3 separate regions of the Homo sapiens genome follow, and regions 2 and 3 are each linked to region 1. Evidence: fine-mapped expression QTL. A gene starts in region 1. Each other region holds a variant in brackets. All regions are shown on one strand. Distances are from middle to middle. Region 1 holds the start of TMEM51 (transmembrane protein 51). Region 2 holds the start of FHAD1 (forkhead associated phosphopeptide binding domain 1). Region 3 has its middle 14 kb from the start of FHAD1.

What was found. PIP is the estimated chance that this variant, and not a neighbour inherited with it, causes the effect.
Region 2: its variant is fine-mapped to the expression of TMEM51 in whole blood (TOPMed, PIP above 0.99).
Region 3: its variant is fine-mapped to the expression of TMEM51 in blood mononuclear cells (TOPMed, PIP above 0.99).

What each region holds. Positions count from the first base shown.
Region 1 is chr1:15,149,977-15,157,684 of GRCh38, reverse strand. TMEM51 (transmembrane protein 51) reads right to left here and starts at 3,938. Exons shown (of 4, transcript NM_001136218.2): 1 at 3,731-3,938. TMEM51-AS1 (TMEM51 antisense RNA 1) reads left to right here and starts at 5,221. Exons shown (of 5, transcript NR_027136.1): 1 at 5,221-5,394. RefSeq lists enhancers at 2,433-3,094, 3,226-3,315, 3,095-3,756 and silencers at 3,466-3,645, 3,736-3,785, 3,846-4,115.
Region 2 is chr1:15,242,157-15,249,864 of GRCh38, reverse strand. It overlaps FHAD1 (forkhead associated phosphopeptide binding domain 1), which reads right to left and starts at 2,642. Exons shown (of 34, transcript NM_001391957.1): 1 at 2,470-2,642. RefSeq lists silencers at 2,377-2,616, 2,634-2,807. The variant G/A (reference allele first, on the strand shown) is at 3,776.
Region 3 is chr1:15,229,094-15,236,801 of GRCh38, reverse strand. It overlaps a transcript of FHAD1 not described here. Among named protein-coding and RNA genes, the nearest start is that of FHAD1, 14 kb to the left of the region's middle. The variant T/C (reference allele first, on the strand shown) is at 3,540.

The DNA.
Region 1 (7,708 bases):
GACACACTCCTCAATGTGCACACCTCATCTTTCAGGACCCTTGGCCCTTACTCCTCCTGACCATGTCACCACGGATGCCACAAAAACACCTGGTAGTGTGAAGTGCAGACAGAAAGGGGATCTTGGAGGGGGAGGGTGCCCTGTTTTGTTTTTCAAGAATCATCCTCAAAATCATTCAAGACAAACTCTGGAACCTCGGGTTCTGGTCCTGGCTGTGATCTCAGGCAAATCTCCTCTTCCCTGGGTCTTGGTCTCCCCAGTTGTCAAATAAGCAGAGTGGATTTTCTGATGGCTAAGATCCCTCTGGCCCCGATATTCTAAGATCTGAAGCTACGCATTCAGGTTTAAGGGCTGCTAAGTCTGATAAATCCAGGGCAAGAGAGAATGTGGAGACTTTAGGTTGCTCCGCCCAAGTAAACACCACAGACAGAAGGTGAGGACCAACCAGCAGTCTTGAGACGGGAGCTGAGGGGAGGAGTCGAGGGTCAGGGGAGCTCAGCAGAGACCCTCAGAGGGCTATCTCTGGTCAGCATCTTGGGGCTGTCTGGGAGGGACAGGGCTGTGTGGCCTGGTATTGGGAAACCAAACAGGTGGCTTGTTTCTTCCAAACAAACGGCCTGTTTTCTTTCTCAGGAGCAAGAGCTCCCAGGAGGGGTGGCCATGGCAGCGAGGGCTCAATCCAGAGGAAGGGAGAATAAAACATTGGCAGGGGAGGCTGCACCACCTGTCCAGGCTGGGGAGGAGCTCAACTCTATGAAGCCGCTTGAAAGACTGAGAGGTTGAGAAACCTGGGGCCCAAAACAGTCTTGGTCCCGAATGTGGCCAGGTCTCCTGGGTTAAAGTAAAGGGCCCTAGAAGGGAGTCAGGAGGGCTGGGTTCCAGTCCCAGTTCTGCTGCTGAACTGTTGTGTGTCCTTGGGTAAGTCCCATCCCCTCTCTGAGTTTTGTTTGTCAAATGAGAATGATGTCTCTGATGACCTGAAGGTCCCCTCCACCTGAGACATTCTAGGACCTTCCTTTTCCCTCCAAGCAAAGGGAGACTTGAAGCATGGAGAAGGATATTCTCACAGCTTTCGCTGCAAGAGGAGGATTCCTCCCAGCTTCAGAGCAGAAACAAAAGTGAAAGCAAAAGTCAGCAGCCCCCATACCACATCCCAAGTCAGAAGACACCTGAGCTTCTGAAACTTTCCCAGCACCGAGGGAGACAATGCTTCTCTTTTGCATGACTCCCACCTTAATTTGGGGCTGGGGGAAGAGAATCCACACTAAAGCTCCTCACACTCTGGCCTCTTCCAGCCCAAGAAGCCTGAGGGGTTTACAGCCAGGCCTGCAGAGGGAGGGAGGAACGTTGACCAGAAACACAACCTATTAAAACGGGAGCCCCAGAAGCTCCAGCTGGCCTCTGCCTCCAGCTTTCCCATCCCTCACGCAGACAGAGAAACTCCCAGGCCTCGTGACATCTGGAGCCAGCGAGCCGGAGAGTCGCAGCTGGAGGGGCTTGGGTCCTGCCAATACCCCAGACACTCACTCACTACTTCTCTCTGGCAGGGGACCAGGCTGGCAGTTTGGGCCTCATGTAGAACCCCAGAATCTTACCCTTGACCAACAGTCATGAGTGAAGGCCACACATTACTCTCTGCTTCCTGTATGGGCCTCTCCTCCAGCTCCCCCATTCATTCCCACTGCCCCCACCAACCCACAGGCCAGCCTCTCTCTCCTAGGAGTCTTCTCTAGGATCCTCGCCAACTTCCAGGCAGCCAGGATTATCTTCTTAACATATGGATGGGATCAGACGACTTCCCTGCTTAGAGAACTTGAATGAAAGGGACGTCTTTCTCCATGTTGTTCATCTTTGTTGAGCACCTAGAACAGCGCCTGGCCCACAGAAGGTGCTCGGCCAACATATGTTGAATGATTCCAAGAAAGCCCCCACCTGTCCAGTCCAGCTCACTCCGGACCTTCCATTCCCTTTACTTTTCCACACCCTCCACTGCCTGAGCACCTTCCCCAGCCCAGCACACCCCAGGCACTCTCCTGTCGCTGTGCCTTTGCCTGTGCTGTTCGATCTGCCCAGACACCCTTCCTCCCCTGTTCCCTGGGGGGACTCCAGTTCCCTGATGAATATTCTAATACTCTTTTCTTAGCAGGACCTCCTGAGTTATTTCCTTTCTTCTGTTCTCGTCTAAGCCCTGTGACATAACTTACTATAGAATACTTCATGTGCTAGGCATAAATACCCCACCTCGCCCTTGGAGATCATCATCCCATTTTACAGATGAAGAAGCTGAGGCTCAGAGAGGTCAGGTCACACAGCCAGCAAGTGGTGTGGCCTGACTGTATCGCCAATTCTGCAACACTTTTCATGAGTATCCCTGACTCCCTCACTAGGCTGGGGGCTCCCTGAGGCTTCTGGGCTCTGGGTCACTGGGGCAGGCCCCAGACACCCCATCAGAGAGCTGTCAGCTCCGAAGCCGTGAGGAGCAGGTTCACCACTAGCCTCCTCTCTCTTTCTTTGGCCTTTTCTCCCAGTCTGGGGGTACCTCTCAATTGGTGGAGTGAGATATTTGGAGGGGCAGGGGCTCTGTCCCAATAGGTCAGGATCCTCTTGTGACAGGTTTCCGGGGTGTGAAAGCTGTTCACGGTCCCAGGGCCAACAGTTCCCTAGACAAGCTGTTCTCCGGGTAACCCATTCAAAAGGAAAGCCAGAAGCCGGCCGGTCCTAGAGGGGAAAGCCTTCCACCCGCTGACTTACCTCCCGGTTCGGGTCCCTGCCCCGCCCACCTCGTCCCCGCCCACCCCACTCCGGCAGCGCCCGGGTTCCCAGCAGCCAGACCTCCCCTGCTGTTGGGAAGGACCCGCAGTCCCATGCACCGTCACAGGCACCTCGGAGCGCTGCGCAGGACACCCCACGGGCTGCTCCCTGGGGAAACCGTGGGGGAGGGGCCAGGTCTCTCGCCCCCACCGCTGGTTGGGAAAGAGACCATTATCCTGTAATGCAGACCAGGCGCGCCGGGCCAAGCGCCTCCCGTTTGTGCGCTGATTTGAGATCTGATTTGTACTCTGCTCTCCCCTAGGCCCGGTAACGTAACTTACCGCTGAGTGCTTGCTGGGTGCTGGGCATGAATGCCCCGCCGCACCCTGGGACGTTGTCATGTCAGTTTCACAGATGAAGAAACCGACGCGCTCAGGGAAGGACTCGAGTTTCAATCCACTTTGCTCATGCCCGATTCTTTACCCCCGTGTTTGCTTGTAGAGCGACACACACACATACACACACACGAATCTAAATCCCTAAAAGGCCCCGACTTCCATACAGTAAGGGATGCGCGAGCAAAGCGCCAAGGTGGTTTCCTGGGACCTACTGGGAAGTTCTGCTCCTAACCACGCGCTGAAAGCGCTTCTGGCGAAGCCAAGGGTTCGAAGCCCGCCGGGCGGATAGCACCTGTTCCCGCCAACAGGGGGCCCCCAAGGCCAGCTGCCTTCCCCAGCCGAGGCCAGCTGGCCAGGCGCGGTGCCCGGGAGGCGGGAGCGTCCCGCGCCGGCGGGGCGCGGCCGCAGAGGGTGCGGGGTGCGGAGTCCTCCCGGTGGTCGACCCCAGGCGGGAAGCGCTCGGCGGACAGACGGACGGACAGGAGACCCAAACGGGCCTCGGCCCCCTTACACGGCCCTGTGGGGAACCGACAGCGCGCCGCGGGAAGCAGCGGGCGCAAGGCGCGGCGGCTGAGACTCACCCGGGAGGCGGCGGGTCCGGCTCCGTCTCGGCTGGGCGGTCCGGGACTGCGGGCTTCGCGACCCCCGCGCCCCACCCGGGCGGCCTCCTCGGTGGGCGCCGCGATCGCGGGGCTGGGGTTCGGGGGATTCTTAGCCGAGGGAACGCAGTGGTGGAGAGGGCGCACTGCCCTCTCAGGGACCGGGTTGGGGACGCAGGAAGCGCGGCCTGGGAGCGCCGGCGTGCGGGAGGGAGGGACCGCGGGAGGCGGAGGGCGGTGCCGGCCAGGAGCGGCCTCCAGCCCGGAGAAGCACCGCCCACCGGCCGACCCTCCCTCCCGGCCCTCGGCACCACCCCCGGGCCCGAGGCGAGGGATCGCAGCTGAGCGAGGCGGGCACCCACTCCCCAGCGTATGCCGCTGGAGCGCGCTGAGCGTGTGCCGGGGGCTGGGCCTAAGTTCTCCCCAACCCTTGCCAGCCGAGTTGGATAAGAGGGGGTCGGGAGAAAATAGAGCCCTGATCCCCCCTCCTCCCTAGGGCCCAGAGAATCGGTGTGCATGCGTGTGTGCGCGCACGCGCGTGTGTGTGACGGGTGGTGGTCGGGGAATGTCTCAAGCTAGAAGTCCCAGGTTTTAGGGGTTTAAGTGGAGCTGGGAGACCCGCTTTCCTCCCACACCAGGCGCAGACGCCGAGGCACAGCTCCGCCAGCCGCCCCGCCTTTACCTGGCGGGATACTCACCTCTCCTCCTTCCTGGGGAGGCCACCGCCTCCCTCTCCCCCTTCTGCCCTGGGCTGGTTCCCAGCGAGGTGAGTGACCGGCACAAGTAGGGAAGGAGGAAGCGAGTTTTTAAAAACTGAGTCAGCTCACGCCCTCGGCCAGGGTCCCCACCCGATGCGTGGTCCCCAGGGCGCCCTCGGGATCGCACGCCCGAGTCCCGGCCCAGGTGGGGCCCATTCCGGGTTCTTGCGCGCGGGCAATGGATGGGGGCGCGCTGCACCGGGAGCCTGCCCTGCTGAGGGCTCATCCCCAGCTTTGCCGAGAACTTTCCCGGCGAGGCACCGGCTGGCGTTTTCCCAGCCTGCGAGTGGCAGGCGGGCAGCCAGTCTCTGCTCGGATCCACGGAGGCCCGGAGCCGCCACGGAGTTCTGGCTCCGGGGAGTGCAAACCCGAAGTCGGCGCGGAAGCCTCTCACCCGCGGCTCTGCCTCCGCCCCTTGGAGATCTGCCCTCGGAACTGCGTTGCTCTGGCGCCCGAACTAGGGTGGGCTGGTTTCAGCCAGACCGCCAAAAAACGTGGATGCTAAACACAGAGGGAAGAGCCAGCTCCCATTCCCTCTCTGAGCCTTAGATTTTTTTGAATTCCGAGAGAGGTCAGGCCGGGGTCCCCTTCTTGGGTGAGCGTCCAGCCCTTTGAAGTTCAAACACTGAGAAGCCGATAGGCAGCTGGCTGGCGTCACAGGATCGAGCCGAGGACTGAAGGCGCCTCCTACCGGGAATCCACCGCCTCCAGACGAAAATAGGCTGCAATCAAGTTCACTTCCAAAGGCGGAATTCATGGGTACATATGGTGTCCACGTGTGTACACCTGCAGAGTTGTAACATGCGGGCATTTCTCCCCTCAGCCCGCCATTCTGGCTTCTTAACTTGCACCCTAACAGCTCGACAGAACCTTGGCGTCCACAAAAAGGCAAGTTTGGGTCTGCCTTATGATTTGGGGGTGGGAAGGCATTTGGGGAAACAGTCTCCATGTCTATGACAGCAACTGCTATTCCTCACATCCTTGCTATGAACCAGGGGCGGGGTTACCACCCACATCCCCTGAACCATCTCATTTAATCCTCATAACCTAGGAGGCGGTTATTTGTTATGCCCACTTTATAGAAGAGAAGGCTGAGGCTTAAGGAGGTGAGGTCATTTTGCCCAGTGAAAACACAGCTGGGAAGTATCAGGATCTAGACCCAAGATGATCCACTCCAGAGCTTCTGCTCTCCCTCCCATAGCATAATTCCTCCTGTCTGCACATACTCTCCACCCTGAGAGAATGTTCACCTTGCCTGGCCACCTGCAAATGCGGAATAAACATTTGTTGGATGAATGAAAGCCCTAAATAATAACCCATGATTTTAGTGAATAGGGAGGACCCTTTGTGTAGGCAGGTACCTATAATAATATGCTCCCATTTAAGAGCTGTGCGTATTCATCCCAAAGTTTAGACAATGCATGTGGGGACCTTCCCAGGCTCCAAAGGAGTGACAGGAAACAGTCACGTAGCTCTCAGATAAGACCAGGAATCTGGTTTTCATTTGACTCTGCAAGATGGACTTTGGAGAGGCCTGGGGTGGGGGCGGGGGGTGATCATGTCAGAACAGCTGTCCCAGCTCCTAATCTGAAGACAAAGAGCTGCTGTACTTTTCCATGCCAGGGTCATCCCAGACCCGCCCCACTCTGCTGCAGACTCAACTGGGCAGGTCTTGTTTATCACAGGATATCATCTTCAGAGTGTTCCATTTAAGCAGGCTCACCCTGGCTGATCTGGGGAGAGACTGACGAAATTCTCAGGCAAAGCTGAGGCCCAGGCAAAACTGAAGAAGCTACCAAAGGAAGCATGCCTCTCCTTATCCTCCTCTCCTCCACAGCCCTCTCCCTCTACATGGTTAGTTTCTCTGAATCTTCCCTACCATTTATTGAACCCTGTGTTTCACGTGCACTGCATACATTGTGTTCTTTGGTTTTCAAAACAGCCCTAGAAGGAAGATTCTATTATTCTAGTTTTTCAGATGAGGCTGTTAAGACTCAGAGAAGTTAGGTACCTGGATCTGCTAGCAAGTGACAAAGTATTTGAATCTGGGGTCTTTGCAGGGCCCTTGCTCTAAATCACTAAGCTAGGAACCCCCTTCTGTGATAGGCAGAATAATGGCTGCCCAAAGATGTTCACAACCTGATCCCCAGAACTGGTTACTTTACGTGGCAAAAGGGACTTTGCAGATGGGATCAAGTTAAAGATGTTGGGACGGGGAGGTTATCCTTGATTTTCCTGGTGGGTCCAATGTTGTCAAAAGGGTTCCTACAAGAGGGAAGCGGGAGGGTCAGAGTTAGAGAGGGAGATGTGGTGATAGAAGTAGAGATCAGAATGATACAGTTGCTGGACAAGGGTCAGTAGCCAAGGAATGTGGGCAGCCTCTAGGAGCTAGAAAAGGAAAGGAATGGAGTGTCAGCCAGAGCATCCAGAAGGAGCTCTTGGCATCCACAAAAAGGCAAGTTTGGGTCTGCCTTATGATTTGAAGGTGGGAAGGCATTTGCAGATCCGTTTTGGACATCTGACCTCCAGAACTGTAAGAAGATAGTTCACTGTGTTGTTCTAAGCCATGAAGTTTGGGTCAATTTGTCACAGCAGCGGGAGGAAACTAATACATCCTGCAAACTCAGTCACCTAGGCAGATGTTCACTTCACCTGCTTTTTTGGCTAACTGTCCACTGTAAACTTCTGAAGAGGCACCATGATCTAGCCTACATCACGGATTTAGAAAGAAGGCAGGATTCCATCACCTTTGTCTTTGGTTTCTGAATCCTCTGCTATTTGTGAGTTGTGTGACCCTGGGCAGATGTCTTGTCCTCTCTGAGCCTCAGTTTCCTCATGTGTCAAAAAAAAATTATTAGCATTTCTATGCTAATAATACCTATTTTCCAGGACCAACTCGGGGATCAGGTGAACTAGTATGTGACAAAGTACCCAGTGTGGCCTGAACATGAGTTGTGGGAGCATTAGCCTGTCTAGTTCTGAAAGCCTGAATTCAAAGAGGAGAGGATGCTGTTCTGAGAATTCCCGTGGCATTACATTTTTATTCTTTCTGGCTGAATGGGTAAATAACGACAGTTTTAAAATATTCGACTGTCCCTGGTTAGTGACCAAGACCCCAGTCTGTCATGCTACTGACTTTCCAGGCACATCAATGAAAGTGAGGCTGGAAAATCAGCTTATAGAAATAGATCATCATGCAGAA
Region 2 (7,708 bases), 92 kb before region 1:
ATAATCCTCAGGCAGCTCAACTTTTCACACCTCCATCACTGCTGGGTGGGGAGGGGATGGGATGGGGGAGCAGAGAGAGTGACTGAGTGGGGGGAGGGAGAGGTTGTCACTTGGGATAGTGGGGTTGTCACTGTTTTGTTGACACTTAGGACATGAAATAACAGATAGCCCTTAACACCAGAATTCTATCCTCTGCAAAAAAAGAAAAGACCCTTGGGAGTAAGAGAAATAAAAACAAGCCAGATAGTTTATGTTTGTAAATTCCGAAGCCTATGAGAAATCCTCAGAAATATTAATACTTTCATATAATGAGAATTTTATTTTTAAGTCTGCTGTCTTTAATAGGGATAAAAAGACACTTCTTTTTCCAAAAGAACCATGCCCTGTTGCCCTCAAATTGCCTGAGTTATTAATCTTCAATTGCAGAGGACTACATCATCAAGCACCACATCCAAACTAAAGTAAAAGTAATCTAAAGTCAACTTTCGAGAAATGTCTCTTTTGTGGGAAAGCCACAGGAAATGCCTCCAGAGTAAAACCCCAAATCTGAATGACTGGCTTTTTTTTTTTTTTTAGCTCTTCCCCCCGATGTTTCCACAGCTGGTGCCTTGCGGTAGCTACCTGACCACCCCAGCTAAAGGCGTCACCAGTCACTTTGTTGTCTAGCTAGCATGTGTCACTGCTGTGGCTCCTTCCTTGAGCTTATCATTCTCTGTCATTTTCTTGTTCTTTACTTAGCTGTTTACTGTTTCCCTTTCACTGAGATACGTTCCAAGAGAGCCCAAACTGTGTTGTTTTTGTTAAACTCAATTCTCCATGGGTTTCCTGTGTTTGTACCCATCTTCAGAGCAAAGACACTGACAGATTTTGTTCCAGACAATCTTCCAAGGACATCTGTAGGGCAAATATCCTGAGAGGATAGGGATAGTGTCCCTATCCAGGGCAGAGTGCAGATTTATGATAAAAATGTCATCTCTGGCTGGGCACGGTGGCTCATGCCTGTAATCCTAGCACTTTGGGAGGCCCAGGTGGACGGATCACCTGAGGTCAGGAGTTTGAGACCAGCCTGGCCAACATGGCGAAACCCTGTCTCTACTAAAAACACAAAAAAATTAGCCGGGCATGGTGGCTTGCACCTGTAGTCCCAGCTAATCGGAAGTCTGAGGCAGGAGAATCACTTGAAACCGTGCAGCAGAGGTTGCAGTGAGCTGAGATTGTGCCACTGCACTCTATCTAGCTTGGGAGACAGAGCAAGACTCTGTCTCAATTAAAAAAAAAAAAAAAAGGTCATCTCCTTCCAGGGCAAAGGTTGGGCACTGGCTAGCAGCCCCTTTTAAAAGACTGGAGTTTCCTGAGCTTGGGGTTCCTTAGCTGGGAAACAGACTCGCAGTGTGCACAGCATCCACCTGAGCTGTCCTGCATCACCCCGGGGTACTTGCAGGGCAAGGGGAACCAACGCAAACATGAGCTCACAGTGCCTGCTGTGCTGTGAGTAATAACATCCTTTGTCTCTGGTCCTGGAGTCTCTGGTCTTCTGCTAGCATCATTAAGCAGTGGCAGGCTAACTTAGCTTGCAAGTAGTGTAAAAATCTCAGACCCTTTGCATTTCCTCACAGTCTGTTCATTACTCCCCTCTGGCCCCCAGCGCTGCCATGCCTGACACATAGTGGTGCTCAGTAAATCATGAATGAATGAAAGTACAAAACAATGCTTAAAAGTAAGTCAGGGTAGCCTAAGAACCTCTGACAGTAACTACCTTTCATTTTCCCCTTCAGTATTTATCCTAGATGACATTCTGGAAAAAAAAAAAAAAGTCTATTTCTTTAGCTGAATGGGTTGGGCCCTATTTCCCCACTTTAATCTTGCCCTGTGCAGTCACTTTCCTACCTGAAAACACTGTAGAAAGTGATTAGATGCGTTAAACTCTGTAAATTAGTTCTAAGACACAGGGCACCGACCATGCAAAAGAGCAAAAGAGCTTCAGGCATCTGCACTCCCTGCTTATAGGTCACAAGTGAGATAGAGAAGCAAAATTTCTGTTGAGGGGTTACCAGATCTTAAGTGGCCTGGGAGCCCTAGAAATTCCTCAGTGTTGTATTTGGGAAGGGAGAGGTTAGGCAAGGGGGGAGTCTCTCTGACCGCCGGGTGGGTGTCGTTCGTAAGTCAGGGGCAGCAGGGATGCCCCTCCTAATCCCAGCTGTAACCCCCAGGACTTCCCAGAGTGGCATGGCTGGTGCCAAGGAGGGTCTAAGGCTCCCGGGGGCTTCCTCCGCGGGCGGGGTGGGGCCTGCATCTGGAAAGGAGGGGCTGGTGTTGGGGTAGCTACTGGGGTGCTCCTGGGGACCGGAGCCTGGATCCAGGAGGATGGGGCCGGGGAGCCACCCCTCCTCCTGCCAGGGCTAGTCCTCGCTGGGCCGCCCCTTCCGGTCCCCGGTCTCGGCCCGCCACCCCTTCCCGCGCCGCACTCACCTGGCGGGAGGAGGAAGCCCACGCTCCGACCTCCGCCGAGAGCCCTGCCAGCTCGGGAGGCGTCGGGCCAGCTCCGGGGCGAAGCCTCCCGGCCGCGCTCCCGCGGAGTCTCCAGCTCGCACCCGGCACCCCGCCCGCCCGGCCGGCCTGTGTACGCGCGTTGCCATGGCAACGCCGCCAGGCGCCGCGGGGTCCAGCCTAATAGATGAGGGCGTGGCCTGCGCGGCAGAGGGGGCGTGGCACCGTGCAGGGAACGCCCACTGGGTTACCGCCTGCTGAATGCTCCAGGCCCCACGAGCCTGCCCCATTTCACAGATAGGAAAGCGGAGGCTCAGAGGTCACAGAAATGGCCCAAGGTTTTACAGCGAGGAAGGAGCAGGGAGGAGATTTGATTCAAGAATCCTTTCCATTACCCCTCACTGTAAGCTGGATGCGTTGAGGGAGGGTCGGGGGCGATAGGGAGAGGTAGGAGATTGATGGAGCTGAACTCATGAGACCCTTGGAGGTTAGTATGCCCCCTGCCCTACCCAAATCTCTAGTCCTTTCCGTTACAGGCCAGAAAATAGAAAGAGTAAGAAGAGGGGATCTCTGGGAGTGGGGTGGGGATTGGGAAAGGGATGGGGTGGAATGAAAAATTTTGAAAGAATGAGGATTTCTTCCATGTGCTGGGGAAAAAATATTTCCAAACTCACAATCCTGCTGCCTCTGCTCCTCCCTGTTAAGAGTGACATTTATTCATTCTTTTGCCCTTTCTCTATCTCTGCAAACATCTTTTGAGTCCTATGAGTGTCACACGCTGATCCCAGAATACACCTGGAACAGTTACTGTCCTTAAGAAACCGCTTGTCAGCCGGCACAGGACTCGCGGGATGGAGTGTGTTGAGCAGATGTGCAAATCCTATCTCCCGCCACTATCTCCAGCAGGAAATCCTATCTCCTGCTGACTCTACCTGGAGAGTGATTCCTTTCACTGGCAGGAAATGGCTGACCAGACACCTCAAGAAAAACTCTAAACGTTTTTCTAAGAGAGATGAACTATGGCACATTCTACCCTAGTGATACGGTTTGGCTGTGTGTCCCCACCCAAATTTCATCTCGAATTGCACTCCCCACGTGTTGGAAGAGGGGCCTGGTGGGAGGTGATTGAATCATGGGGGCAGACTTCCCGCTTGCTTTTCTCATGATAGCGAGTGAGTTCTCATGAGATCTGATGGTTTAAAAGTGTGGCACTTCCCCCTTTGCTCTCTCTCTCTCCTGCTACACCATGTTACAACATGCTAGCTTCCTTGCTTCCCCTTGGCCTTCC[G/A]CCATAACTGTAAGTTTCCTGAGGCCTCCCTAGCAGTGCAGAACTGTGAGTCAATTAAACTTCTTTTCTTTGTAAATTATTCAGTCTCAAGGAATTACTTTATAGCAGTGTGAGAACAGACTAATACACCTAGTCAATAGGAAGAGGATCTGAGAGAGAAATCATGGACATCGATTTGTGGTGGAATATACAGTGAAGATGCTCAAACGTGCCTGGAGGCTTTTAGAAATGCGGACTTCTGGGCACAGACCCCAGAGATTCTGATTTAGCAGGCCTGGGACATAATCCAGGAATGTGCATTTGCAACAAGCTTGACAAAACCCTGATTTATGCAGCTGAACTGCAGAGACCTCTCCCGGAGCCTGTCCCTACAAATCTCTTCCAGGCCCTCAGTCTGGAAGGTTCTGCCTGGATCAGTTTCCTACAACCAGAAAGATTCTAGGCGTAAAATGTTAGGAGGGACCACAAGGGCTGGGACCCAAGTGATGGCTTCACAGGAACAGAGAGGGTCAAGCTCAGCTTCCCACACGTTTCTGCCTCAGAGCCTTTGCTCTTGCCCATTCCTCTGCCTGGAATGCACTTCCCCTCAAGAGTCTCCTTTGCCTTCTTTACTTTAGCTTTTTACTCACATATCATCTTTTCTAAAATTGGTTTTTTGAAACAATGAAACAACCACCATGAAATCTAATAAACAACAAAAAAGAGCAAATAAAAACAATAAGAACAGCAAAAGCAAATAAAAATAAGAACAACAAAAGCAAATAAAAATAAGAACAACAAAAGCACATCCAAACAAAATAAAAACCTCAACACTCTATCCCTCTTCCCTTCTTTTTGCCACTTGCTATAGTTAGAATATTTGACCCCTCCAAATCTCATGTTGAAATTTGCTCCTCAGTGTTGGAGGTGGGGCCTGGCGGGAGGTGCTTGGATCATGCGGGCGAATCCCTCATGGATGGCTTGGTGCTGTTCCTGTAGGGTGCATGAGTTCTCACTCTATCAGTTTCCTAAAGAGCTGATTGTTAGAAAGAGCCTGGCACCTCCCCCTCGCTCACTCTCACTTCCTCTCTCATCATGTGATCTCTGCACATGCAGGCGCTACTTTCTGCCAGGAGTGGAAGCAGCCTGAGACCCTCACCAGAGGCAGATGCTGGCACCATGCTTCTTGTACAACCTGCAGAACTGTGAGCCAAATAAACCTCTTTTCTGGATAAATGACACAGCCTCAGGTATTACTTGATAGCAACACAAATGGACTAATACATCACTTATCATCAACTCACATACTATTTCTTTATTTATTTATGTTATTTATTGTGTCTCCCTCCCTGACCCCTGGTAGAATCTAAACTCCATGAAAGCAGGAATTTCTTTTTTCATGTTTTGTTTGCTGCTGTGCCACCAGTCCCTAGAACAATGTCTGAATGAATAAATATGCAGGGGGAAGCCCCTGCCACCCTTCTGAAGCCCGGCCTCCTGTCCTCTGAGGACTGCTGGGCTGACCTGTCCTCGCCCCAGGATGTCGGCTTCTCTAGTCCCCTGCCCAGGCCTGAACACCACCTCCATCCCTACCACCACCCCTCCATGCTTGTCTTTGGTCAAACTCTTGTCATTAACATGAACCCAGGACACAAACTTGCTATCAGACAGACCCCAGTGAAACCCAGGCTGGCCATGAGCTGGAACAGCCCATGCCCCTCACCAGGCTTTGAGAGATCATCTGTTGCTGTTAGCTGATATCTCAATGAAAAACAAAAAATCCTAAACTGAGAGCAAAGCTGACACTCAGAATCAGTGGAGCCGAAGTTGCCAAATCTTAATTGGATCCTCTGTCCCTCAGGATGCCACTGTTATCTCAAGGGTGTGCAAAGTTCTTGAAACCCAATTCCGTATCATCCATTTTCATTTCAAAAACAGAAAATCAAATACCCAATAACTTAGGGTTTTATGATATAATTTCCTGGGCTGAGTAAGAGAGTTGTACATTGCAATTAAACAGTGATGCGGCATTAAAAATACTGTCCCTGAAAAAAAAAAATAGATGTTTCTAGATTACTTGTGCTTCTTGGCAGTGCCTACAGTTAACCTTTTATTGAACTCTTGGTGACGACGAAGCCCATATTGTAGGAAATAAGGCTCAGAGACAGGGAGAAATCTGCCTAAAGTCACACAGCTAGAAAATCTGGCAGGATTTGAATCGAGATGAATGTGACAAGGAAGGTATTTCCCCTGGGGAACTACAGGTGACAGCTGTCACAATCACAAGATGCCACTTACTCACAACTGCTTTCTCTCACTTCTGAGCAGCCTGCACTCTTGTCTGTCCAAAGGTTCAGGCAGTGCCCAGGGCAGGGAGTGAAGGGGGCATAAGCCCAGAGGAGGCAGCTTAGGCCTGCCACCCACATTACCTGCTGACATTGGGCACTAGGCTTCGTTCCTGCAGAACTTCTGCCCCCGTAAAATCTCATTCCTTCCCAGCCACCTTCTCTGGGCTGTTCTTGCCTGGGGAGAGCCTAACCCTGTGCTCCATCCTCAGAGAACTGTGTGATGTTTCTCCTGCTGCCCTTGCATTCCAACATGAAATGAATGCTGGCTTCAGGCCCCAGCCGCGGCCAGGAGAGGTGTGGAGGCTTCCTCAGCCTCTATGGCATGAAAGAGAGCCAGAGAAAGAGCAAGAACAAGAGAGTAAAGAGTGCAGGAAATAGCCAAGCTGTTGCGCAGGGTGACGGATGACAGAGAGCAGAGGGCCCACTAGAGACTCCACGGCCCATTAGTAACCTGACCATATAAGCTTAGAAAGTACAGATTTTTATATACAGACCTACACACAGAGACTCATGAAAATAATTTCAAACCATGGAGAGAATAACTGGCAACTGAGGCTTTCTGCAGCCATCCTTGCCTTTTCCCGTGGCAGAAAATGAGAAAATATGGAGCTTCGTCTCATGTCGACTCTTTCATGCTGGTTTGGAGCATTCAGTTATCTTGCAAATCATTTTTCAAAGTCAGTTCCCCTTGGTTCCTTGCGCTTTGCTGTGGGGGGGTCTGTCTGTACCATCCGTTCAAAAACTGCAAAGTGTGCTGGCCCCACCTGTCCTGGGCCTGGTTTTTGTTGTATTTTGTTTGTGCCTCACTTCCCTCACCTGTAAAATGGGTATACAACAATCCATTTTATTGAAAGGATTAAATGGGTTAAGACGTATGAAACAATGGATCAGTGGCTGGTACAACTGAATGGCTCTATGAGTGTTTACGATTATTGCCTGTTTTCTTTTTCTCTGATGCTGTGCGAAGAGAGCCCCAATCTCAACCCAGGTCACAAACACTCTGGAGAAACTTTGATTTGCATCAAGACTCAGTCCTACTCCAGAACAAACCTGATCTCTGGATGACTAGTCTCATATTATCTGGCCGGCTGCTCTGAGACCTTTCTATATGTGGATATGGATATAAGAGATAGGATGTGCTCCTTCCTCTAGTCACAACTAGAGGTGATTCTTGGGAACCCAGCAGTCTCTATGGGGTGGCACCTGCTGGACAACTCCATAAATTCTACTTCCAGGCATGTGGGCAAACCTTCACTATATTTTTTTGAGTGACAGTGAACCTTTATGAATGTGGTTAACAAATTCAGCTCATATTTATTAAAGCTAACAAGGTACCAACCACCATGTCATGCACAGTTTTATTTAGTTCTTAGCCCAACTCATTATACAGAAAGAGAAATTGAGGCACAGAAAAGTCAAGTAACTTAACCAGTTACAAATCTTGCACATGGTGGTTCTGGAATTCAAACTCTGGCTGCCAGATTACAAAGTGCTGTACTTTTTGTAAACTTTTTTTTTTTTTTTTTTTTTTAGATGGAGTCTTGCTCTGTTGCCCAGGCTGGAGTGCAGTGGTGCGATCTCGGCTCACTGCAACCTCCTCCTCCCG
Region 3 (7,708 bases), 79 kb before region 1:
TTCAAACTAGCTTCAGCATGAAAGCAAATTAACTGGTTACCGTAAATGAAAAGTCTGCAGGGCTCAAGTGATGTCATCAGACCTCAGTCTCTCTCTGGCTCCTCAGCAATACTTTTGACCACGTGGATCCAACCTCAGACAGAATCTCTGTATAATGGTCCCAGAAAGACTGCTGCAGCTCCAGTCCTTACATCTTCTCAGCTTTGAATCCCAAGGGGATGAGAGAGAATTTTTTCCTAAGATTCTCCCAAAGGCCTCATGGCTTCTCATTTTCTCTGATTGACTCACAGGCCCGTTTCTAAGCCAATTAGTGTGGTCCGGGGGACTGCTGTGCTCTGATTGGCCAAGCTTGAGTCACATGCCCATCCCTGCAGCCGGAGATGGAGTCAACTCAACCAGGAAGAGACTGAGACTGGGCTGAGAACAGGAAAGGGGGTGGTCCCCAAAGGGGAATCATACATAACACCGTAATATTTTAGAAGAAAGGTGAATTGATATTGGGTGGCAGAAGCTTCAGGTGTCTCCTGCAGTGGCTAACGTACAAATCACGTTGACTTACTTTACAATTTGGATTTATGTCTTTTCTGGGGAAATTGGAACATCAGGCAATACTTGGGCTCTGTTCCTGCACACAGAGCAACAATCTGTGAGGCGTGTGGAGAGGCTGCCGCCTCCAGGTACAGCCTGTGTCCTCCTTGTCCGCCGCGCTTATTCTTATTCCTTCTCTGTTCTATAACTGCTTGAGTTTTTACCCCTGATGTATTTTGATTATGTGGATCTGTTTATCCTACCAGAATGGAAGTGCTAAAAGTACAGGGGTCAAGTAGTTCTCCCTGTGTTCCCACAAAGTTCTGAGGTCAAATGCCTGGCCGTTAAAAAAATTCAACTTTTAGCTGGGCATAGTGGCTCACGCCTGTAATCCCAGCACTTTGGGAAGCCGAGGCCGGCGGCTCACTTGAGGTCAGGAGTTCAAATCCAGCCTGGCCAACATGGTGAAATGTCTCTACTAAAAATAAAGAAATTAATCGGGCGTGGTGGCGGGTGCCTGTAATCCCAGCTACTCTGGAGGCCGAGGCATGAGAATCGCTTGAACCCGGGAGGCAGAGGTTCCAGTGAGCTGAGATCACACCACTGCACTCTAGCCTGAGCGACAGAGTGAGACTCTGCCTCAAAAAAAAAAAAAAAAAATTCAACTTTTATTTTAGATACAGAGGGTAAATGTGCAGGTTTGTTACATGGGCACATTGCACCCAGGTAGTGAGTATAGTATCAAATAGGTACTTTTTCAACCCACTCCCCCACCTCCTTTCCCCTCAAGTAGTCTGCAGTGTTGAGTGTTCCCATGTTTATGCTCATGTGGGCTCAATGTTTAGCTCCCCCTTCTAAGTGAGAATATGCGGTATTTGGTTTTCTGTTCCTTTGTTAATTTACTTAGGATAATGGCCTCTAGCTGCAACCATGTTGCTGTAAAGGACATGATCTCATTCTTTCTTATGGCTACGTAGTATTCTGTAGTGTATATGTGCCACATTTTCCTTATCCAATCCACCATTGATGGGCACCTAAGTTGATTCCATGTCTTTGCTATTGTGAATAGTGCTGCGATGAACGTAGGAGCGTATGTGTCTTTTTGGTAAAATGGTCTTTTTCTTTTTGGGTATATCCTGGCAATGGGATTGCTGGGTCAAATGGTAACTCTGTTTTAAGTTCTTCGAGAAATCTCCAAACTGCTTTCCACAGTGGTGGAACTAATTTACATTCCCACCAACTGTGTATAAGCATTCCCTTTTCTCAACATCCTCTACAGCTTCTGGTTTTTGTTTGTTTGTTTTTTTGACTTCTTAGTAATAGCCATTCTGACTGTTGTGAGATGGTATCTCGTTGTGGTTTTGATTTGCATTTCTCTCATGATTACAGATGATGAGCCTGGCCATTTTTGATCATCTCATTCCTTGCTCATTTTTAAATCCTTCTTTTAAAAACTATTTAATACAAAGTAGAATCAGTATCTGGGAATTCCAACACCTGATGTCCTTGGGGTGCGAGGAAGTGTCTCAATCTACTGTTTGTTCTTTCTGCTCACTCTTGCTCATACTGACTTGTTTCTTGGAGGGTTAATAATTTGAATGTGATCTCAGTGTTGATTGAAATTGATCTGCGGGAGTCCTGAGGAGTCTGATTTCTGGCTGCGTTCCTCTAGGAATGATTTTTGTTTGTTTCATTTGGATGCCAGGGCTGCTACCAACCTGTGATCCCTTACATTTACTTCTTCAGCTTGGAGTTTCCCCCTTGAATGCACGGAGTGTTAAACTAATTCCTAGTACCATGTGGTTACGAATCCTCAGGGTTAACAATCGTCATTATTATGGTGGCCATTGTTAATTTTCCCCTCCAGAAACCCTGCAGAGCCCATGCGCTCCCTTTTCTGGCAGTCCAGAAAAATACACTTAAAGCCTTCCCTTTCTCAGGAGGTAGAGCACCTTTCAAGGTCCTGGCTTAATATGGACATTGTAGATTTTGCTAGCTCAGTTTGCAAAGGCCTGAGGTCTGACTTCTTATTTCCTGTACCTGTTAACTCTCCACACTGATGGAGGTATTTATCCTCAGGAATTCCTGGCTTCCTCATTCGCTTATACTTTGGTTATAGCTAGCTCTGCCTATGGTGTGTGTGTGTGTATGTTCCTTTGGGACTACTTACTTAAAAAAATTGGGTGTCCTCCAGCAATCTCATTACTGAGTATATACTCAAAAGAAAATAAATCATTCTACCAAAAAGACACATGCATTTGTCAGTTCATTACTGTGCTGTTCACTATAGCAAAGACATGGAATCAACCCAGGTGCCCATCAGTGGTCAGTAGATTGGATAAGGAAAATGTGGTACATATGCATTATGGAATATTATGCAGCCATAAAAAAGAATGAGATTGTGTCCTTTGCAGCAACATGGATGGAGCTGGAGGCCATAATCCTAAGCAAATTAACTCAGGAAAATAAAACTATGGCATGTTCTCACTTAGAAGTGGGAGCTAACCATTGAGCACACACAGACATAAATATATAGGGACAATAGACCCTGTGGACTCCTAGAGGGTGTGGGGGCAGGAGGGTTAAAAAACTATCCATCAGGGCCAGGTATGGTGGCTCACGCCTGTAATCCCAGCACTTTGGGAGGCTGAGGTGGGCAGATCACGAGATCAGGAGATCGAGACCATCCTGGCTAACACGATGAAACCCTGTCTCCACTAAAAACACAAAAAAATTAGCCAGGCGTGGTGGCATGCGCCTGTAGTCACAGCTACTCGGGAGGCTGAGGCAGGAGAATTGCTTGAACCCGGTAGGCAGAGGTTGCAGTGAGCCGAGATTGCACCACTGCACTCCAGCCTGGGTGATAGAGTGAGACTCCATCTCAAAAAAAAAAAAAAGAAAAAAGAAAAAAACCTACTCAACAGGTGGTGTGCTCACTGACAGTGTGGCAGGATCCATACTCCAAACCTCGGCATCATGCAGTATTCCCATGTACAAATCTGCACATGTAC[T/C]CACTGTGTCTAAAATAAAAATTGAAACTAAAAAAAATGCTGGTAGTTTGGGGGCTAGAAGTAGCTAGAAATCAAATTAATCTTCACGTCTGCATTAGAAATGTCTTATAGAAGAGAGTTATAGTTTTTAATATAAACATATTGCTTCTCTATGGAAAAAAATTGGGGTTTATAATGGAGTTTTTTGAAACATACAACACAAAAGTAGGGAAAAGAGTACCATTAACCCCATGTACCCATAATCCAGCTTCGATACTTCTCCAATCTTGTTTTATCGCTTTTTTCTTCCTTTTTGATTAACTTCCTTTTGGATTAACTTAAAACACATTGTGTCATTTCATACATAAATACTTCCTGACTAAAAGGAGCTTCCCCACCTTTATGACATTATTTTCCCCATGACATTATCACACTAGCAATACTAGTAACAGTTCCTGAATATCGTCTAACATCCATCCATGCTCACACTTTCTTGATTCTCTGAGAGATGTCGTTGTATTGATGATTTGTTGACATCGGGATCTAGACGCCATCCACACGTTGTGTTTGGTTGTTATGTCTTTGAAATATTTTTTATTCCATAACAGCATCCCCTACCTTTTTCATACCACTGATCGGCTGGAGAAACTGGGTGTTTCGTCCTATAGAATATTCACACCATAGATTTGACTGATTGCTTCTTCATAGTTTCAATTAACTTATTCCTCTCTTCCCCATGTTTCCTGCAAACTAAGAGTGAAATCTCGAGGCCTGATGAGATCTGGTCTTCTTGTTGTCAAGACTACTTCATAGGCAGGCTGTTTGATTCCTCCTGTGTCACATCGTGGACATGTAACATCTTGGTTGGCCCTTTTTAATGATGCCAAGATGGCTAGGTAGGATCAGTGCTGACAGGCTGATCTGTCCATCATAAAGTTCTCATCAAATTTTTCTCCAGTGACTTTTAATTTTTATGTTTAATTTTTTTTTGAGATAGAATTTTGCTCTGATGTCCAGGCTGGAGTACAGTGGCAAGATCTCGCCTCACTGCAACCTCCGCCTCCTGGGTTCAAGTGATCCTCCCACCTCAGCCTCCCAAGTAGCTGGGACTACAGGTGCACACCACCATGCCTGGCTAATTTTTTTACTTTTAGTAGAGACAGGGTTTCACCGTGTTGGCCGGGCTGGTCTTGAACTCCTGACTTCAAGTGATCCTCCTGCCTTGGCCTGCGAAATTGCTGGGATGACAGGCATGAACCACCAGGCCCAGACAGTTTTTATTTTTAATTGTGGTAAAATACACATAACATACAATTTACCATGTGAATCATTTTTAGCGTACAGTTCAGTAGTGTTAAGTACATTTACATCATTGTGCAACCAACCTCCAGAGCTTTTTCATCTTGCAAAACTGAAACTCTGTACCCACCAAACACTAGCTCTGTAATTCCCCTTCCTCCCAGGCCCTGAGAAATATCATTGTACTTTCTGTTTCTATGAGTTTGGCTATTCTAGATACTTCGTATAAGTGGCATCACACAGTATGTGTGTTTGTGACTAGCTTATTTCACTCTGCAGAATGTCCTCAAGGTTCATCGTGTTGTAGCATGTGTCAGAATTTCCATCTGTTTTAAGGCTGAATAATATTTCATTGTATGCATAGACTATATTTTGTTTGTCCATTCATTCATCGGTGGACACTTGGGCTTATCAACATTTTTTTTTTCTTTTTTTGAGATGGAGTCTCCCTCTGTCACCCAGGCTGGAGTGCGGTAGCAAGATCTCGGCTCACTGCAACCTCCACCTTCCAGGTTCGGGCAATTCTCCTGCCTCAGTCTCCTGAGTAGCTGGGACTATAGGCAAGTGCCACTATGCCTGGCTAATTTTTTTATTTTTAGTAGAGATGGGGTTTCACCATGTTGGCAAGACTGATCTTGAACCCCTGACCTCAAATGATCCTCCTGCCTCGTCCTCCCGAAGTGTTGGGATTGCTGGTGTGAGCCACTGTGCCCGGCCTCATCAACTTTTTACCTAATAGTTTTAGCATTCTTTGAGGATCATTCCCTAGCTCCATTCTTTCCTTTGAGGTTGCAGAATAGTGATCTTTCTGATATTCCTTTGTTAATTATTGCTAGAATTCTTCTTCATCAACTGTCAATGCATTTTCTTCATCAACTATTATTATTATTATTATTTTTGAGACAGGGTCTCACTCTGTTGCCCAGGCTGGAGTGTAGTGGTGTTATCATGGCTCACTGCAGCCTCAACCTCCTGAGCTCAAGTGATCCCTCCATCTCAGCCTCCCAAGTAGCTGGGACCACAGGCACACACCACTACACTCAGCTAATTTTTAAACTTGTTGTAGAGACGCGGTTTCTCCATGTTGCCCAGACTGATCTCAAACTCCTGAGCTCAAGCATCCTCCAGCCTAGGCCTATCAAAGGGTTGAGATTACAGGCGTGAGTCACTGCGCCTGGCCAATTATATGTTTACCGTAAAACACAGTTTGTTCAGGAAAGGCAGAATAAATGATGGATTCTTTCCCTTTATGTATCAATATTCACAGTAACAAGCAACTTCCCAAAGTGACCAATGAGTTTTTAAAAGTATCATCAGGAATATTTGATTTGGAATTATGTAGATGTGTTTCAATCCATTGAAGTCACTATTTGGTTTGATGCTCACATGGTGCCAGCATCATGGCATTTGGGTTGGTTCTTGTGTTGTTTGTTTTTCTGGGTGGAAACAACTTAATATTTCATTATAATCATTTGTGTTTGTGAAGCATTACTGTGGTCTTTAGGGAAACATCTTTTTACTCGGTTTTCCTTTCCTGTACAAGGAAGCTGAGCAAGATGAACTCTAGAAGCATTTCTCTTTAAAATTCTACTTTTTATAGCATTTTGTAGCATATAATTTAACTCATTTGATTCTCCCAGTCTTGTGGCCCAACGCAATAATCAATATTTCGTTTTTCAAACATGGAAATTGCCGCTCAGATGACAATCTTTTTTTCCACTTCTCCATACTACATTCTCCCCGCAACCCCCCGTAGCCAGTAGACCTAAAGCTTCAGTTTGTACAGTTTTTAACCACGGGCATTTTGCGCCCTGACCCAGGCCCCCAGGAGACTTTTGACAATGCTTCGGGACATTTTTGATTGCCACACCTGGGCAGTGCTTCTGGCATCTAGTGGTGGAGGCTAGGGATGCTGTAAACTTCCTGTAAGGAACAGAGCAGCCTTCCACCTAGCCACGCCTTGCCCCATGTCAGGGTTACCCAGCCCAAAATGTCAATAGTGCCAAGGTTCAGAAACCCAGAGTTGAAGCAATACACAGAGATAAAATCATATTCCATTTAATTCAGTGTTTATTCACTGGAGGGGTGTATGATAATGTACACGTCTATGAAATTACTACCCAGGAAGTAGGAGCAAGGGATAGTCTGCCTTCAACATATGCGTAGGACTTAGTCAATGGTGTTCTTCTCCTCCTCCTCCCCCTCTGGTCTTATTCCTGGTTCCTATATTGCCCCGTGAGACCTTTCTATTATTGGCCTAAGGGAAGATGAGTGGATGATTTTTACTACTTTCAGCCATTGGAAAAATTTTAGGCATTAAAACTTTTTTAACTGGAAAAATAAACATCAAAATCAAGGTTTATTCCAAATAGCAGCTAGAATGTTTGTACTGATTTCTCCTTGCCAATTTTTTTTTTTTTTTTTTTTTTTGAGACAGGGTCTCACTGTGCTACTGAGGCTGGAGTGCAGTGGTTCTCCGTTCTCTGCAAACTCCACCTCCCGGGTTCAAGCGATTCTCCTGCCTCAGTCTCCCAAGTAGTTGGGATTACAGGCGTGCACTACCACACCCAGCTAATTTTTGTGGTTTTAGTAGAGACGAGGTTTCATCATGTTGGCCAGGCTGGTCTCGAACTCCTGACCTCAAGTGATCTGCTCACCTCCCAAAGTGCTGGGATTACGGGTGTGAGCCACCACGCCCGACTCCTCCTTGCCATTTTCATGGATTCAATGAATGTTTTAAATAAGCTTAGGATTACCTTTTAAAGTCAATAAAATTATTGGCCTCATATGCCCCAACTTCTCCTATAAAAGGTATATTCCTATTTCCTTTTCTCTACTGCATTTGTGCTGATTTAAAAAAAAAACAACACCCCAGTTGGTGCTAAATGAAT